Homo sapiens: one gene and its partner. The protein of the gene in region 1 interacts with the protein of each later gene in a pairwise test. Each region holds a gene or a part of one and is shown on either strand. Other genes may lie near its edges.

The links. Proteins that work in one complex are often made in the same cells at the same time.
Region 2: the proteins of DCX (region 1) and ZBTB5 interact in binary tests that used the Homo sapiens proteins (3 or more experiments, as listed by UniProt).

Annotation. Positions count from the first base shown.
Region 1 is NC_000023.11:111,293,531-111,297,279, reverse strand, and holds the end of DCX (neuronal migration protein doublecortin), read left to right. Parts: 3' UTR 1-3,501; downstream 3,502-3,749. UniProt on the Homo sapiens protein: Microtubule-associated protein required for initial steps of neuronal dispersion and cortex lamination during cerebral cortex development. May act by competing with the putative neuronal protein kinase DCLK1 in binding to a target protein.
Region 2 is NC_000009.12:37,463,322-37,467,070, forward strand, and holds the start of ZBTB5 (zinc finger and BTB domain-containing protein 5), read right to left. Parts: upstream 2,130-3,749; 5' UTR 1,894-2,129; exon of another isoform or gene 603-1,893; intron 1-602. UniProt on the Homo sapiens protein: May be involved in transcriptional regulation.

The DNA.
Region 1 (3,749 bases):
AAACGTCTGTGCCAAGAGACTTCCCCAGATAGAAACACTGGGACAGTGGTTTGAACGACTTCTTTTATGGTTGTCCAGTTTGCTATGGAAATAAAAGGCATTGATTTTTTAAAAAGATGATTGGAACCTGTCTTTGGCCACATAGGGCCACTTGGATCCATTTCCAGGCCTTACTCATATATTGCCTTCACTGAAGGGCTTTGGCTTTAAGTCCCAGACTGGTCTCCCAAGTGAACCATAAGTGTTTTGGAGCTCATCTGGGGTGAGGCATGAGAATGTTGCCCCATCTATCCCTTCAGGAAAAGGTGCCTTCCCTCCCTTTCTCCTAAAGCCTGGTCCCCAGAAATTGTTTTTGTCTCCAAAAGTCTAGTATGGTCTTTATACACCCAGACTCTTAGTGTTGCGTCCTGCCTTGTTTCCTTGTTAAGGATCTATGCAGACCTCCCGCTTTGGCTTAGCTAGCGTGACATTGGCTATCATTTGACAAGACTAACTTTTTTTTTTTTTTTTTTTTGACTGAGTCTCCCTCTGTCACCTAGGCTGGAGTGCAGTGGCACAATCTTGGCTCGCTGCAACCTTCACCCTTCACCTCCCAGGTCGAAGCGATTCTCCTGCCTCAGTCTCCCGAGTAGCTGGGATTACAGGCGTGCGCCACCAAATCTGGCTATTTTTTTATTATTATTATTTTTAGTAGAGATGGGGTTTCACCATGTTGGCCAGACTGGTCTTGAACTCTTGGCCTCAAATTATCTGCCCACCTCGGCCTCCCAAAGTGCTGGGATTACAGGCATGAGCCACCATGCCCAGCTGACAAGACTAATTTTTTATCCCTTGGTTTATTGGCTTCAACATCTTCTGGAATCAGAGGTGATTTTTTCTTACCTTGGATGCCTGAGACTAGGGGAGTATAGAATTCCAATTGGTAATTAAGGCATCTTTCTGCTCCTGATCAGAAGGGCAGGTTAGTTGGGAGAGGTCAGATGGCACAACAGAAGTCACCTTGTAAGTAAGGCAAAGACTTGAAGGCATTAGCGTTTCTCATTACTAGGTCAATAACCTGAGGGAATCAATGGCTTTTTGCCGCTCTACCTCTTGTGTATCTCTTTGACTTTTCTTTCTCTGTCTAGTTTCCTCTGTTCTCAGTTTATATTCTATGTTATCAGTCTCTCTTTCCACAGTACAAACATCCATCCTTTCTCCTGTGCAATTCTGTCTCTCCCTCTTATTATCTTTATTTGTACTTTTTCCTTCCTCCCTGTCTAGGCATTGGGCATGTGCCTCTTCTTAGCCTGTGATTTTGCCTTGGGACTGATGATAAATTATTTCCAGATTCAATCAGCCCTGGTCCTACCCCAGTCCAATCAGAAGTATGTTGGTGGGAATCAACCTGATCCTGGCCCTTTCTTCTTCTCCATTTTCATTCGTAATCCCCCTCAGCAGATCTTTACAAGCAGTTTCCTTATAGCTCATGTATCTTTAGGTCTTTGCCTTCCAAGCACTGTACAGAATACTTTGTGGTTCCTTTTTAGTCTGACATTTTGTGGAGCAGTGAAGCGTGCTCAGAGACATAATCAGCTGAAGAGAAAAAATCCACCCATGGATTTATATCAGCTAAATACTAATAATTGATTTTGTTTGATGTGCCCATAATTTTTAAAGCTGCAATATAATATAATGAGGGACCACAGGTAATTTCTCCTGTCATTTGTTTTGGCTGGATGGGGGTGGGGGAGTAATTGCTTAAAGTTTTACCATTACACATTAAACTCTCTATAATAATCTTGTTTGGGGCTTGCTAACTGTTGAGCTGTTTTAACTAAACTGGTAGGCAATCGGAGTTGATTTAAATGAAAAGATAATTTAACAAATCTATACTATAAAAAGAGACATTTGCTTAATTGACATGTATTTTTTCCTTCTGAGTCACCTAAACATTTACTCTTGACACCAACTGTTCATGATACTGAATAGACAGTCCATATAAGAGAAATTAGTGGACCTAAAGAAGCCAGATTGTAGGTGTTAATTTATTAAACAGAGTGCAAAGCCCTTGGAAATGTCACTGCTTGGCAATACCATATGGAATGCCAAAATTTACAATGACTTTTCTTTATAAGTTATCCAAAAGGGATTTGAACAAGTAAGAGGTTATGCCAAAATGTCTCCAATGTATGGTCCTGTAATATATTGCAGCTTGAAGCCAATGATCCCTTATGACTTGTATACAACTAATGCATGTTTTATTGAATTTTGCATTTCCCACGTGTGGTAAGTTCTTTAAAATGTTTTTGATCACCTTTTTGTGCCATTAAACTTGTACAGAAAATGTTTTTATGGCCATTTTCAAAGGGAGAAAGTTTAAAATGGAAACAGCCCACCCTTTCTGCCCTATAGCTGTAGTTAGAATTGAGTACCTGTAGCAAAACAGCTGTAATTGGTGGTTGTAGTGTTAGAGGTGTTAGCTTGCTAGTGACTAGCTTTGGAGAGTAAATGCATGGTATTGTACATCACATTTCTTAACTCGTTTTAACCTCTGAAAAGAATATATTCTTCTTTGTAGTCCTTCTTCCCACCCCCTTGCCCTCTCCCTCTCCCTGCTCCCAGTTGTCTTACAGTTGTAAATATCTGATTTGAGGCCCAATAACTCTTGCCAAGTAAAGTCAGCAAACAACAAACAAACCAAAATGTGGGGAAAAGGCATTTCTCAACCATCTCTCAGCAGTTATTGATCATTTCTTAAGGAACAGCATTGTGATCAAAGACTCAACTTTACGTAAAAATCAGTGGTAAATTGGGGTTGTATTTGGCCATTTGATTACATTTCAGGATTGAATAGTTTTCAGAATCACATGTAATCCAAAGACAGTAGGTAGTGATGTCCCTTATCCCTGCAGCTGTTTTAAGATAGAGACCTCAGAAGACTCTGCTTGACCGATGACCAATAATTATTTGAAAAAAAAAGAAAAAATGAGAGAAATAAAACAGATATTTAAGAACTTTAGCCACCTATTTAGAATAGTTATAGCCAGAAAAAAAAACAAGGGCATGAGTTCAAATGCATTACTATCAGTGTCCTAGGCAATACCTAACCTACTCTGAAATTGTGATTCAAAAGCAGTATTTCAAGAGGCATTCTCCTTTTTTGGTTTGCTGACCCCACTTGGACTGGTAGGTTTGGTGAGGCCCCCATAAACCAGCTGGAGCAGACCCTTTTCATCTCCTGTGCCTGTAACACCCCTCTTCCCCCACCCCCTCCGCAATTCAATGAGGGCTTTCTTGGGTCAGAGGACTTCAAGGTTGTCTAGAGAAGTTTGCCATGTGTGTAAGGTGCTGTGAACTGTGAGTGCTGAAGATTCGCAGCATTCAATACCAGGCAGCCAAAGAGCTGCTCTTGCAATTATTTTGGCTCTCAAGCTCTGTTCTTCATCGCATTCTCATTTCTGTGTACATTTGCAAGATGTGTGTAATGTCATTTTCCAAAAATAAAATTTGATTTCAATATTTCTGGCTGACATTCTTTTAAAAACAAAAACAAAAACAAAAAACACTGAACCAATAATCATATAACCTCAAAATGTCCAAGCTGGCAGGGAACTTAGATATTATTTTTTCCAACCTCTTAATTTTATAGAAGAAGAAGCTGAGAGTAAATGTATGATAGAAACACCATAATTATTGGTACAGCACATTTACAAAAAATAAGATCTCAGATCTCCCCCCAGAGTTGAGCAGGAATAAAGTGACCTCCT
Region 2 (3,749 bases), on another chromosome or scaffold:
CAACATCCATATTTGAGAAATATTACGTACAGTAAAAGAAAAATCACACGCTTAAAACTGACAGAGGGGGAAAGTATTTAAAATTAATTTACATTAAAAAAAAAGTTGAAAGCTAACATAGAATCAATACCTTGGGTTCTTTTTTCCATTTCCAAAACGAATGTGAGCCAGATTCAAGATTCTCTGTCAGCACTACACCAGGTTTTGTCAATTTCACTGAACACAAGATATTTTAAAGTCTCCAATTCGATATAATTCATGCTGAGTTCTTTAAGTACTATTTGATATCCCAGTGATTTTTTATTACTTCCACTTTGGGGACAGTCTTGTGAGTCTCTTTTGAGAGCGTTCGCTCCTAAGTCTGTAAGATGCCTTTCCTCCAAATCTTACCATTTTCAGAATTCTGCTAGAGACATATCAATTAACCAAAATCCAGCTTGCCAGCATCCTCAGCTAACTAAAAGTTATGTTTTGACACAACTTTTAGGGAAAAGGGGCAAATCTCTAGTAAACGAGTTGACTTCAGGACTCTTCAAAAAAAGAGTCTGTTTATTCAGCAAAACCCAAGGGCCCAAAACAGGTCCCCACCCAAGTAGTCTTACCTGTAAGGTCACCAAGCTGGCTGTGGTGGCCAGGTCAATCTTCCCAAATTTGATGAGATTTCCATAAGGGTTAAAAGGAAGAGTGAACGGTTTCCTTTGGCTTAGGGGCTTTTCTCTAAAATTCCTTGTCTTCTTCCCATCTGGACTTTTCCCTCTGAACTATTAGCTTACTGCCAACCACCGTCCCCACAGAAATCACAAGAGTTTAGGCAAATGAAAAGCAAGTTCTGCCCAGCCTTTTACATCTAAGCACAACAGCCCATACTAGGACAACAAATTACCAATGACTTAATGACTAAGGCACAGCATTCTCTTCAACCTCTAAAGAAAAGCCCGTAATGTCCTCTACTTAATACAAGTGAAAAATATGAGAACATGTTTTGGAATATTTTTGCTTCAATTTTTGAAGGTGAAGAGTTCCTTCTATTAATTCAAGTTAACTAGAGTCAGAAGATACTACTTAGTAATCAACTTTACTGTGCTTTCACCTAAAATTTTTCCTCCAAATTATTTAGGATTTGCCTTCTGTTCAGAAAATTAGTTTCCACAATATCCTTCACTATGCCAGAATGCTGACTGACTTAAAAAAAAATGACCATTATGAAAGGAAAAAACTAACCTTCAACACCCCTTAATTCACTGCCTTTTATTATTTACATACAAATCTGTCCTCCAAACAGGAGAAGATGGGACGGCAGTGTCTTACCACCGCATCCCCCACAGCTCCTCGCACGAAGCCTGGGAGTAGTGGGCATTCAATAAATGCCTATTAAACACTTCAGTCCTCTCATAACAAGTTGGGGCATTCCGAAACACTGGCTCCACCCCTCCAGGGTCGGCCGCTGGCTCCCGATGGCAGTCTGCCTATGGCCTTGCTCTGGTGAAATGAAACCTCGTCGCTCAAGACCCAGGATGGGGGCAAGGGAGCCGTCCGACCACATCCCGCAGGGCAGCAGATCCTCTCTTCATCCCGCCAGGCCGCTGGTCCTGAGGCCTTTCCCACCCCATTCGGGAACCTACGTCGCCAGCCGGGGATCCACAGGAGTACCAGCCCCCGCCCCACCCCGCAGACAGCCTGGCGTCGGGACACCGGGGACGCCTGCGCAGAAGAACCCGCCTGGCCCCTTGGCTCCAACGGTAACAATGCTCCCCTCCGAAAGACAGCCAGAGTAGTCCGGGGGCACCAGTACACGTCTGCGCGCTCCCCGACGCCTTGGCGCGCCCCTGGTGCTCAACCTTCCCCACGTGAGCGCGCCCGCCATCACGATACTCGCTGACGGGGTCTCCTCACCTGAGTCGGGCTCCGCCCCCCTCCTCCTCGCTGAAGGAGGCGGTGACCCCTCTCCGATCGGACTCGGCAGTGTCAGAGGAGGTGGGAACGTCCTGACCAGCGTCTCCGTTACGGGACTTCCTCCCCCTTCCACCCGCCCCCCTCCCACCCCGCCTCTAGTCCCCTAGCTCCTCCAGCCAGTTCGCCGCAGCACTCTGAGAACACGGCGGCGGCGCCCGAGGATAAGCGGAAGTGACGTAATGCAAGAGCGCCTACTCCGCCCCATTCCGCCTCTCCCAGTTGGGCTGCAACCAATCAGCAATGGGAAGGGCGGGGCCGGGGTAGGAGTGCAGCCAGCCGGCGCGCGGAACCTGGAGGAATTTACTTAGCCCCCGGAAAAACTGACCAATCCACGGTCCCTGAAGTCTGGTTGTGTTTACTACCGACTGAATCCGTGAGCTCTCTGACCAATCACCCTTTGCCTTACAACATGTAAAACGGTTATCAAATGCCTTTTAGGGCGGGATTTATCACTAAACTGCTCCAGGTTTGGACTATAGAAATGCGGCTGTTCGCTGCAACCAATCAAAACCCTCTGTGGTTTAGGCTAGCGGGCTTTCCGCCTAAATCCGCCAATCACAACAACGACTGCGTGATGTCTGAGGGCGCCGGAGAGGCGGGCCCTCAGGGCAGGCCGTACCGCCATTGGCTGGTTCTGAAGGATTTTTCCACCCTCGTGGTGCCCGGCGCTTTAGTGACCCAGGGCTCTTCTCCGGGGTGAATTCCCTTCGCTGAACACACACACACACACACACGTAGAGGGCTGGAGATTGAGTTCCCACTTCATAGACGTTGGGAAAGATAAGATTCCAAAAAGCTCTTTAGGTTTAACTAAGCCAAAGTCCAGGGTGAAAACCGCGAATAAAAAACGCTGTCCATCGGATGGCAGTTAGGTCGGACCCCGCCCCTCGTCCAGTCCGGGTGGCTGCGCGTCTGGAAACGGTGGCGCCCCAGGAGCCCGGCGCTTGGCCCCGCACTCGGCTGCAGGTCAAATAAGCCTGTAGTCTGCATGCCCAGATTTATAATCACCTGCACTCCCCCCACAAAAAAATAGGAAGCGCTAAGCTCTCCCACTCCTGTCCCAAACGTGGAAGGGTCGCGGACTTGTATGGGACGCGGTCTGAAAAAAGCGAGCCCCGGGGCGACGCTCGGGTTTCCAGGTGCACCCTCGGAGGGAGAACCCGATCCCTGAGCATCGGACACTGGGGCCAGGGAAGAAACCCCCTTTCCTAGGGTGAGGACGGCAGAAGAAAGCTGCCTTCTCCGGCGCAGCGTGTCTGGGAGCGCTGCGTGGCTCTGGAGACAAAGGCAGGCCCGCGAACTCAGCTGGGTTCTTCTGGGGGTGGGGGTAAGGGTCTTGGAGGAGCTCCCAGAAAAATGGAACTCCCAGCCGGGCGCGATGGCTCACGCCTATAATCGCAGCAATTGGGAAGGCTGAGGCGGGCAGATCGCCCGAGATCAGGAGTTCGAGACCAGCCTGGCCAACATGGTGAAACCCTGTCTCTACTAAAAGTACAAAAATTAGCCGGGCGTGGTGGTGGGCGCCCGTAATCCCAGGCAACTACTCGGGAGGCTGAGGCAGGAGAATCGCTTGAACCCGGGAGGCGGAGGTTGCAGTGAGCTGAGATCGTGCCGCTGCACTCCAGCCTAGGCAACAGAGTGAGATTTCGTCTGGGGGGAAAAAAAAGGAACTCCCCGCTTTAAGAATGGAACACACCGAATACCCCTACAGCAGATTCCATCCCTTCAGTTACTGGTCGGAAGTGTTGATTTCAAAAAGCAACCTGTTTGCGTGGATTTCTTTAAGGGCTCGGTGG